Linked DNA regions of Homo sapiens. The protein of the gene in region 1 interacts with the protein of each later gene in a biochemical or structural test. Each region holds a gene or a part of one and is shown in the gene's direction. Other genes may lie near its edges. The genes, in order: UBE2J1, PRKN and UBR5.

Region 1 (3,749 bases):
AGCCTCCCGAGAAGCTGGGATTACAGGCATGCACCACCACACCCAGCTAATTTTTGTATTTTTAGTAGAGACAGGTTTTTGCCATGTTGGCCAGGCTGGTCTCCAACTCCTGACCTCAGGTGACCTGCCCGCCTTGGCCTCCCAAAGTGCTGGGATTACAGGCATGAGCCACCACACCTGCCAGCCACTTCTCTTTTCTCTGTAAATGTCTCTGCTGAGAGAAATTTTGGAATTGGCTTTGATCTTGGAGCATGATTGTAATTAAGCTTTGATATGTGCCCATAATTAAATTGTTATGGGCACATGTCCACAATAAATTGTTGTTATTGTTGTTAACCAAGGAAGGAGAGATTGTTATTCCTACTGAACCAGTCCTATGGGAGAAGAGCCCCAGGGAGCAGTGGAGGTGGTGGTGGCTAAAGGAGAGCCCCAGAGGACAACTGCACCCAGAGATTGATGGACCTTGGAGGCTGAATAGCAAAAGGCTTCTAGTACTCAGCTATCAAATAGGAACGCATTATATACAGCACCTGCTTTGCAGGCCTTGCTGTGGTAGGGCCTACTGCACAAATTAGGGGCTTTTGTAGAGCTGTGGCAGGAGAGGGTGTCAAGTGTCAGTTAATCTGAAGATTCAACACAATGAATGAATGAAGCAGCATTGGAGTTTGGTTTTGTTTGCATATCTCAGTCAGTCAGATTATCAGTTTACTATACAGAAAACAACATCAGGGAATGATTTAAAATATACCATCTAATTTTAGATATCCTTCACTTTTTTACTCCCAATTTCATCAAGAAACTCACAGATTTAGATTAACTTTAACAATAGAAAACAAATCAAATTTAAGAGTTTATGTCTTTATATAACAGAATAAAACTTGCCCAACCTGATTAACCCTTTCTATCCTCCCCACCTTCCCAATCCCTCCCTCCTTTCCTTTAGTAAGGTCCCTACTCCTTAAGTCTTTTGAACTCAGTCCTCTCTCGATCCCACACATTGGACAATGAAGCAGTAAGTGTGTCCTTTGAAGTTTAACCTTTCATATTTGTATGCTTTCCCTCACATTAAATGTAATTCCTTTTTTTGACAGCTTTTACATCTAAACAAACCAAAAAAAACAAAACTCCTGCAATGCCTAAAACATGTCGTGCACCTAACACACTACCCGAGAAAAAAATTGTTATGAATATCCAACTCTGGCCAGAGCCGTGGCTCACGCCTGTAACCCCAGCACTTTGGAAGGCCGAGGCGGGCGGATCGCTTGAGTCCAGGAGTTCGAGACGAGCCTGGCCAACACGGTGAAACCGTGTCTCTAACAAAAATACAAAAAATTAACCGGGCATGGTGGCACACACCTGTGGTCCCAGCCACGCTGGAGGCTGAGGTGGGAGGATCGCTTGGGCCCGGGAGGTAGAGGCTGCAGTGAGCCAAGATCGCGCCACTGCATCCCAGCCTGGGCGACAGAGCGGTGACACCGTCACACACACACACAAAATAAAAAATAAAAAAAATCCTATTCCATTTCCTTGTCACTGGCTTTCCCCCTCCTCACTTAACCCCCGCCCCTCGCAACAGCAACTGAATCTAAAAACAAAGCCTTTCCCAGACCCTGCGGGACCGCGCGCGGGCAGCCGGCTGCGGACAGCTTTGCAGCCGGAGCCCGGCGCCCCCTCCGAGCTCTCGAGGGCCCGGGGGTCCCGGACCTCGCCTACAGCGGGCAGGGCCGGGACGAGAGGACGAGGACGCCGCTCGCTCCTGCACCTCCCCAAGCCGGCTTCGCCGGGCGGGCGGCGGCTGGGTAGTGACCGACCGCCACGAAGCTACTGCCACGTCAGGGCAACTTCACAAATCCCGGACGAGGGCGGGTGACGCAAGCCGGGCGGCCGCGGCAGGGCTGGGCCTGCGACTACCCGAGGAGGCTGACCTCCAGCCCGGGCGCCCGGTTCAGCGCCGCCCCGGCCGGCGCCGGTGCCTGCCAGGCACTCAGGGAGGCGGGGGCGCAGTGGAGGAGGCGGCGCCATCGCGAAGCGAGCGCCTCGCCCGCACTCAGCCTTGCCACCCCGCCCGCAGTCCAGGCTGGACTGGGCGGCATTTGCCGAGGCTCCTCGGCCAGGCCCCGTCCGCCCGAGCCGCGCTGAGACCCGGGCAGCGGCCGCGTGGAGAGGAGGTGGCAGCGGCCCGGGAGGCCGGAGCCAAGCCAGCGACCCACCATGGAGACCCGCTACAACCTGAAGAGTCCGGGTGAGCAGGGCTGGGGCCCCTGGGCGAGGAGGGCGGAGTGACCCTGGACCCCGGGGTGGTCGCCGCCTCGGTCCCCTCGCGTCTGGCGCCACTCGCGGCTCAGCTCCTGGTTTCGCGCTCTACGCGAGACCGCCGCCTGCCCGGGAAGTACAGGCCGCAGGGCGAGGTGGCCGGGTGGACGTCCGCTGCCAATCCCCCGGCCGGCCAGCGCGCCCCGCAGCACCCAGCCTCTCCCTTTTCTCATCTTCGCCTGGTCCCGTAGAGCTGGGTCAGAAACTCATCCCTGAGAACAGGTGTAAAGGTGATGTCGGTGGGCGATAGTCATCAACCCCCTCGCTGTACCTGGTCGCTATTCCCTCCCTGTCGCTGCCACCGGACTTCTATTTACTTCTATTTACTGCCGGCTGATTTACTCACATTTGAGGAGTTGGTCGTTTAAATATCCTATTTGCAGCACTTGGGCGAATACAATTACAGACATAAAGGAAATGTTCTGTAACTAAACCAGTTAACTATAGAGCTAAAGCAAAACAAAACAACAACAAAAAAACACCTCGTTGAGCCCTGTTCTTGAGAGCTAACCTTGATTTTTGCCAGACTGGCTAATATGAAATGTATCTGTATTCAGTCGTAGCGATTCCTTTCCTGCATTTAATGATCCTGCTTTATATTTACACAAGCAGTCCCAGCAATCCTAGCCTCTAATTACTTTCTGGTGCATTATAAAGATAAGCAACTAGCTTTCTCAGCTTAATAAAACAGGCTTGAAATGAATCATTGGATCCTCTAAATGGTATTTTTTCTATCTGTACCTTGATACATTTTGTCAGGGGGAAGAAACTCCACAGTTAACTCTGCATGATAAACTCTAGGATATTAGTGATGATTTCACCAACTTTTGCTGTTGCTTAAAATTTCCTTCCAAAAAAAGCTGTTTCTCAGTAGGAATTAGCAAGACTAGCATCCTTGTGGAAAGAGTTGACACTGTGAATCTTTGGGTTTTTTGTAAGGTTTCAGAATATGCAAAAACCCCAGAAAAGCCTGAGGATATTGATTGGAGGGAGCTTTGTTAGCCTGAGTGCTGTCAGGCTAAGAAATGTCCTTAGGTGACCAAGTGTGTAGAACTGGTCATAATATTTTAGGAGCCACTGACTCCTTAAAAAAATCTGATGAAGACCTGGCACGGTGGCACACGCTTGTAATCCCAGCACTTTGGGAGGCTTGAGCCCAGGAGGTGGAGAGCAGCCTGGCCAACATGGTGAAACCCCGTCTCTACTAAAAACACAAAAATCAGCCGGGCATGGTGGTGGCGCACTCCTGTAGTTCCAGCCACTCGGGAGGCTGAGGCAGGAGGATGGCTTGACCCGGGGAGGAGGTTGCAGTGAGCCGAGATCGCGCCACTGCACTCCAGTGTGGGCGACAGAGCGAGACTCCATCTCAAAAAAAAAAAAAAAAAAAAAAAAAAAAAAGAGAATCCCGGGGTGGGGAGGGAGGAAGAAAAGACCAA
Region 2 (3,749 bases), about 73 Mb from region 1:
GAATTGTGACCTGGATCAGCAGAGCATTGTTCACATTGTGCAGAGACCGTGGAGAAAAGGTCAAGAAATGAATGCAACTGGAGGCGACGACCCCAGAAACGCGGCGGGAGGCTGTGAGCGGGAGCCCCAGAGCTTGACTCGGGTGGACCTCAGCAGCTCAGTCCTCCCAGGAGACTCTGTGGGGCTGGCTGTCATTCTGCACACTGACAGCAGGAAGGACTCACCACCAGCTGGAAGTCCAGGTAATTGGAATGCTCTAAGATTATTAAAGCATTTTGTTTGTTTGTTTAGTGCAGTCTGCATGGAGCATGGCCTCACCGGGTGCATATTTAGTTTATGATACGTTTTGGATTGGAGTCTCTAATTCACTACAAGGAGACATCACTGTAGGTGGAGTACTTTGATGTAACATTTGAGAATGCATTTATTGTAAGTACTATGAAACAGGTTTTCATATTGAGATTAAATATAAGAGATATGTTTCTAGTGATGTAGAAAAATTCTAAAAAGCAGAAAGAACTCTAAAGCTAATCGAGCCATTTGTAGTTTCTAAAGCCAGATATGCCAATGGCAATGACATCCTTAGTGTGAAAGGACTCTTCCTTCTCTCTATGCTACCACCCATTTCAAAATGCTTTTCTTTGGCAAAGATTGTTATTGTTTAGTTATTTTAAAAAAATTAATATGTGCCTCTTAGTCTTTTATTCTCTAATCTAAATAGTCAAAGGTGTAATAGAATTAATTTTTACTGTGTTTGACAGAAGACACAAAATAATCACAATGACTTTACAGGGTAGAAGTTGATTTTCCTCCCACATACAATAGATCCTGGCAGTTGTGGGCTGGTATGGCCTTCACAGTGTCAGAAAGTTCTGGGGCCTGCAAGATGGAAGCCTAACATAATAAGAAATGCCTCCTACTAAACTTACTAAATAAAATTTAAGGAACTTAAAAATTTTCGATGATCTTGCAAAAAATAAAAAAAGATAATTTCCAAGGACAAGTGAAAATGTAGAAACAACATCTTTAAATACAGGAGTAGATAAGCCCAGAAAGTAAGGCATTAACTGATGCTCTGGTGATCTTGAGATGATTGTGGGAGGGAAAGAGGCTCTGCTTCATGTGAGCTGGGCACCTCAGGTCTGGAAAGAAAAATTGAGAAATGGAAATAAATGTCAAAAATGGGGAAAAATGAGATAAATCTAAACCCCTGCAATACTCTTGTGACCAGAATAATATATTAATATAAATATCGAACCCAAGCCCATAACAATTCTGACGTTTCAACCAGAGTATGTATAAGATCATTCTGACACTGACACCTCTAGAGAATACTCATGCTCCAACATTATAAACCAAACAATGGAAAATTCCACCTTGAGTGTGTATGAGACCAGAATATGCCACCCCAAAATATGCCACTTTAGCATAAGTATTATTTTAAGCTGATTATTTTGAGAAACAGTAGACACAGGAAAAGCTCTAAAAACAGAGTAGAAGTGACCCTTTTGTAAGGGAAATTTATATCTACCAAGGAAGTCTCCATTTGTAAGGGTGTCTCCCTCTCCTTACTAGGATGAGGAGGACAGAGTCTCTGGAGACTCTGATCCTTGAGAAGGCACCAACTGAATAATCTGCCTAACAAACCTTACTCTTGTCTTCTCCTCTCCCTTTCTTCCTTTGCCATTGAAGATGGTATTCAAGCCTGAATTTTAGGCACCTCTTTGAGATTTATGCATTTTTTCTGGGTGTCTCACATGTACAGTTGTCCCTCCCCATCAACAGGCAATACGTTTCAAATCCCCCAGTGTACGCCTGAAACCAAAAATGGTACCAAACCCTATATTTACTATGTTTGTTCCTGTACAACTGTATAACAGATTGGATTTATTATGTTAGGAGACCTATCTACTAGTTCTTTAATTTGATTTCCCAAAATAAAATTCTTACTAAAAATAAAAAAATCACATTGTTTAGAGCAAAATTAAACCTTTACTTATTATCTGAATATTAAAAACAATTTGAGCACAAGAATCCTGTTGTGTACATATTCATGTTCTTTAATACATTTCCTAGTGCATCTGGCTCTACTCTCTTATCAACCATATTCATCTGAAAATTTTAGTCTTCTTATTTTGTTTTATCATAAAATTGCCCTTGGTCTTCTCCAGAATTTTCTTTTATGAGAATGAACTTAGAATTATTGACACTTTCAACTGACTCTCTCTCTCTCTCTAGACCATAATATTTTAAGAAAATATAGTATTCTCTCTATATAGGGTCTGAAGTACCAGTAGGCACTGAGAAAATTCTGCTAAATGTCTAATATTCTCTTTATATTTTTAAATTGAAATGTGTGATTATTTCAACCCAAACAATAGAGAATAAATTCTAGTAAATTTATGGAATGTGGTAAATGACAGCAGCCTTCAGAGTACTGTATGATCTATGATGATGCGCTGTTTCACCTTGACTTTCCACTCATGTCTGAGTCACATCTAACCTCTGATCACCCTGTTTCTCATTTACCCCTCTGTCTTGTGGCCTGCCAGCCTTGTGCTTTTGGCAGGCTAGGGACTGGCTCAGGCAACTCTACATGGTGCAGTTGGGGGCTGCAGGGTTGCCATCCTAACACTTCTCCCTGCACCACTACACACTGGGGGCAACTTCCTGGCACCCTACATGCTGCTACTAAAAGGCCTCTGTAAAGATATGTTGCATCTGTAAAGATTGGGAAAAGAGAGATGGTGCATCCCAGGTCAACTTTCAGATTTAACTCTGTGTTAAACTAACAGCTAAACTACAAGTAATCCTCTCCTGCTCATTAGAACTGGAGGGAATCCTTTTCAGAACTCTTAGGACTCTCCCTTATTACTTGCTATTTTGTACTCCAGTTCTGACTTCACCTTTTAATCTCTTTGAGGATGGAGTTTTTGTCCAATTAACTGTAGTTTTCCCCAAAATCTCTTAGAAGAGTGGTGATACATGTTTACTAAATTGCTTCAAATTGTAAACATAGTCAGTCATTCAACAGAACTCCTGTGCATTTAGCTTTTAGAGCGAATGCTTTATTTAAAATTATACAGAGAAATTGAGATTTCATCTCTTCAAATGTCTTGGTTCATTCTTGGTTTGAGTTAAGACTGAATGGAATGATTTGAAATGACTATATGCAAACAGTATGCCTATATGATTATTTTTCTTCACTAAAAATGATAGCGTAAAGTTACTAGAGCAGAGATTCACAGACTCTCATGTGCAGAATTATCTTGCATGTTTTTCCATGTTTCTTTGATGGCCAGAATGGCGAGAAAAAAAATCTTCTTTCATTCTTTTTCTGTGACCAGAAATTTTGATGTATTTGTCTGGGGGTAGAGGCCCCAAAATGTTGGTACTGACCATACTCTGAGAAACTCTGCCCTATGGCTAAGGTTTTCCAGCCTTACAATTATGGATCCTACCTGTTGTTCTCACGGAACAATCGGACGCTGGGTGGGAGAACAGAGGCAGGTCGGTGAGAGGTGAACACACCAAGCCAATCACAGCAGCCTGAGACCATTCCTCTTTACGTACTTCACATATTAAACACATAAAACATCTATCATTTGAAAAGATGAAAAAAATCCTTGGTTATACAATGTTTGAAAACCTGTGCCTCAGAAAAAGAGATTAAAAGAAATCCCAATTTTCTGTGCTTCCAGAGTCTTCAATTTTAACTTCGAAGAATATAAGTGCTGGCTGGACGTGGG
Region 3 (3,749 bases), on another chromosome or scaffold:
AGTGCACCCGGCCAAATCTAACTAATCTAAATCCAAGTAAGGCCACGTAGTTAAGTAGCAGAAACAACTGAAATTTAGATCTGGGCTGGGCGCAGTGGCTCACGCCTGTAATCCCAACACTTTGGGAGGCCGAGGTGGGTGGATCACCTGAGGTCAGGAGTTCGAGACCAACCTGGCCAACATGGTGAAACCTTGTCTCTACTAAAAATACAAAAATTACCCAGGCATGGTGGCAGCGCCTGTAATCCCAGCTACTCGGGAGGCTGAGGCAGGAGAATCACTTGAACCCAGGAGGCGGAGGTGGCAGTGAGCCAAGATCGTGCCATTGCACTCCAGCCTGGGCGACAGAGCAAAGACTCCGTCTCAAAAAAAAAAAATTTTTTTTAGATCTGTTTGGCTTGAAATCTAGCAGTGTCTACTGGTCTACCTTCCTTCCTCAGGGCTCCCAGGGACATCTAATAGTGACCTTGAAATCACTTTTTAGTCTAAACTAATCTGGGCCAATGGTTGAGCTGGTAACCTACAAAAGTGTTCCATTATCTGCCTTGAGGGTACCAGGTCTGTCCTGATTTGTAAGTATTTTTTCATAAATTTTGCTCAGAAGAACTTCCTAAGCAAAACTGTGTGTGTGTGTGTGTAATTCATTAACAGACCACCTCTGTAGAAGGAATGTCATGTTCTCAGTTTTTGCCTTCGAAGAGGTACTTTATTTTTTAAAGGAGGTCATAGAAACCTTTGAGAAGAAAGTCATGAATTGGTTCCTTAGGGAAAAAAAAACAGACTTATTTGATTAAAAAAAATTTTTTTTTGAGATGGAGTCTCGTTCTGTTGCCCGGGCTGGAGTGCAGTGGCATGATCTCAGCTCACTGCAACTTGCCAGGTTCAAGCAAGTCTTCTGCCTCAGCTTCCTGAGTAGTGGGGTTTACAGGCGCGCACAGCCATGCCTGGCTAATTTTTGCATTTTTAGTAGAGATGGGGTTTCACCAAGTTGGCTAGGCTGGTCTCGAACTCCCAACCTCAGGTGATCCGACATCCTCGGCCTTCCAAAGTGCTGGGATTACAGGCGTGAGCCACTGTGCGCCGTGGCCAAAACTCTGAAAGTGTCTTATAGTAGAAACTCGGTATAAAAGATCCTATCTCGGCCAGGCGTGGTGGCTCAGGCCTGTAATCCCAGCACTTTGGGAGGCCGAGGCGGGTGGATCACCTGAGGTCAGGAGTTCGAGACCAGCCTGGCCAACATGGTGAAACCACATCTCTACTAAAAAAGAAATACAAAATTAGCCGGACGTGGTGACACATGCCTGTAATCCCAGCTACTCCATAGACTGAGACAGGAAAATCGCTTGAACCCGGGAGGCGGAGGTTGAGGTGAGCCGAGACCGCGCCATTGCACTCCAGCCTGGGCAACAAGAGCGAAACTCCGTCTCGGGGAAAAAAAAAAAAAAAATAATAATTTTCCGTTCTGATTCCACTGATCATAAATTGAACTCCTTTGTAGAACAGGTTTATCATCTTTCATTTAAAAGTAATAAAAAATCACGAATCATTTATATCAGGAAATTAGTGGAAATTTCCACATTTTGTCTTTGGGCATGTGATGGTGGTGAGGAAACTGGGGAGACCGAGGTAATAGAAGTTGCTGCAAAGCCAACTCCAGGATCCTACTATCTCCTTCTGGAAAGGCCCTTACATAATTTCCTTACTTTTCCAATAAAAGGCTGTATATGTCTTGCCCCTTAACTGATTTTACCAACTTCACCATAAATACAACTGCGGATGAAGGATGAGAAGCAACAAGAAACCCCTAAGGATCCGCCAAATAATTAGGGCTGCCCCAGGGGAATCCGAGCGAAAGAACACAAGAGCCCCTCTTCCTCCTCGCCTCCTCTGGGACACACACTTACCCTCCCTCCCGGCAGGTTAGCCCGCAGCCTCCTCCTTCCCTAACACGTGCTCTCCGGAACACTCACTCTGGAGACATCCCACCCCCGGCGGGGCTGGGCTCGGGAGCCGAACGGACCAATCGGCACGCGCCTTACAGCGTCGTGGCCCGACAACGTTGAGCAGCCCAATCGAGGGGGCCTTGCCGCCCGTTTCCCGGAGCCCCGCCTCTCGCCGCCGCGCCCCCGCCCGCCGGTCTCCTCCCTCCTCCTCCTCCCGTTTGCCCCTCCCCCGCCGCTCCGGAGCGGAGCCTGCGAGACGGAGAAACTGGGGCAGAAGTGAAGATGGCGGCGGCAGCTTCTCGCTAGTGACGCGCGGTGCGGGCTCATCTCCTTCCCCTCCTTCCTCACCTCCCCTAGTCCGGACCCCGTCCGCCGCCGGGACCAGACCGTCCCCGTAGCCCGCAGCCAGCAGCCGCCCCTCTCCTCCCCCGGCCGCCCCTCTCCCAACGCCCGTCTGCCGCTGGCCGGCGGCGCGCCCCTGGTCCCGGCCGCCTGCCTCGCACTCCGCGCTGTCGCCGGGGGAGCGGGTGGCGTGTGGATTCGCCCTCCTGCCCGCCCCTCCGGGCCGCGGACACACGCCCGGCAGGGAGGCGGCGGCGGCCCCTGCGTATTTGCTTCCCTCCATTTGGGGACTGGGAGGCGGCGGCGGCTGTGGGTTTTGGGGAGGGGTAGAGGGCTGGGGGGCGGGCGAGAGCGGGAGGGGGCCGCCCTCGAGTGGAGGACGAGAAGGAAAGCACCATGACGTCCATCCATTTCGTGGTTCACCCGCTGCCGGGCACCGAGGACCAGCTCAATGACAGGTAATAGGGCTGGCGGGTCGGCGGGCGCGGGGGGAGGGGCGCCCTTCCCTCCCTCCCCTCCCCCACGGGCCGTGCCGGGCGGGTGCGGGTGTTTACGCGCCGGCCGGCCAGCTGGGGTGGGGTGCGGGGGTCCTTACTGCCTCCTGCTAGGCTCCTTCCGGGGCAAACTTCTCATCCCGGGGGCAGGGGGCCGCGGGGGGAGCGCGGTGTAGACGGGACTCGCGGTGTAGACTGGAGAGCGCTCTGTAAACCCCCTTCCCCCTCCCGCAAGGAGCGGCGTTGAACTCGGCGGAGATGGGGGGGTGGTTTCTGGCTCCCGGGGGGCAGGCGGTAATTACTGCCCGGCCAAGGCCCGAGGAATCCATATTAGTCAAAGTTGAATTGAGACAGACAATGCGGATGGGGGATGGTGGAGGTAAAAAGAGAGGGAAGAGGAGAAGCGGGGCCAGGGGCCCCGGGGTGGGCTGGGCTGGGCTTGTCCCGGGCCCCCGGCAGCTGTGTCCGGTGGGGTGGTCTGGACCTGGGGATCCCGGGGTCGGGTTGGGGAGAGAAGCCGATTCCCGGCAGATTGCTGGGAGCGGGCGGGGGGTGGGGGGAAGGTGATAGTTGGGGGAGGGAGTGAGGGAGGAAGCGCCATGATTATTGTTATTATTATTAAATTTGAGCCCCTGCAGTGAGGTTTGCCTGCCCCGGGAGGGGATGGATTCAAGCGGGGGTGGGGAAGTGCATTGGATTCCCTTTACTCTCCTCCTGAAATGGTGCTGGCAGCTCCTGCTACTAGCCCCTGTGGTGCGAGCTTTTTTGTTTCCTTTTCTATTCTAATGATAGTGTTTTCCTGAGTTGTAATTTGACAGCTGAAAACCGTGCGTAGAGTGTCAAAGGAAAACTCTTACGTTTGCAGTTCGCAATGCTGCTTTTCTTAACACGCTGTAAATTTCTGGGTTGGGTTTGCTATGGGCGGAGGATGAATTATGATTTTATTTTATGTTTTGTCTTTTATAGGCTG

What was found.
Region 2: the proteins of UBE2J1 (region 1) and PRKN form a complex in vitro, tested with the Homo sapiens proteins (4 studies listed by BioGRID).
Region 3: the proteins of UBE2J1 (region 1) and UBR5 form a complex in vitro, tested with the Homo sapiens proteins (one study listed by BioGRID).

The regions. Positions count from the first base shown.
Region 1 is NC_000006.12:89,351,032-89,354,780, reverse strand, and holds the start of UBE2J1 (ubiquitin-conjugating enzyme E2 J1), read left to right. Parts: upstream 1-2,058; 5' UTR 2,059-2,211; coding exon 2,212-2,242; intron 2,243-3,749. UniProt on the Homo sapiens protein: Catalyzes the covalent attachment of ubiquitin to other proteins. Functions in the selective degradation of misfolded membrane proteins from the endoplasmic reticulum (ERAD) and is essential for cells to recover from ER stress.
Region 2 is NC_000006.12:162,259,018-162,262,766, reverse strand, and holds part of PRKN (E3 ubiquitin-protein ligase parkin), read left to right. Parts: intron 1-1; coding exon 2-242; intron 243-3,749. UniProt on the Homo sapiens protein: Functions within a multiprotein E3 ubiquitin ligase complex, catalyzing the covalent attachment of ubiquitin moieties onto substrate proteins. Substrates include SYT11 and VDAC1.
Region 3 is NC_000008.11:102,411,167-102,414,915, reverse strand, and holds the start of UBR5 (E3 ubiquitin-protein ligase UBR5), read left to right. Parts: upstream 1-2,215; 5' UTR 2,216-2,681; coding exon 2,682-2,743; intron 2,744-3,749. UniProt on the Homo sapiens protein: E3 ubiquitin-protein ligase involved in different protein quality control pathways in the cytoplasm and nucleus. Mainly acts as a ubiquitin chain elongator that extends pre-ubiquitinated substrates.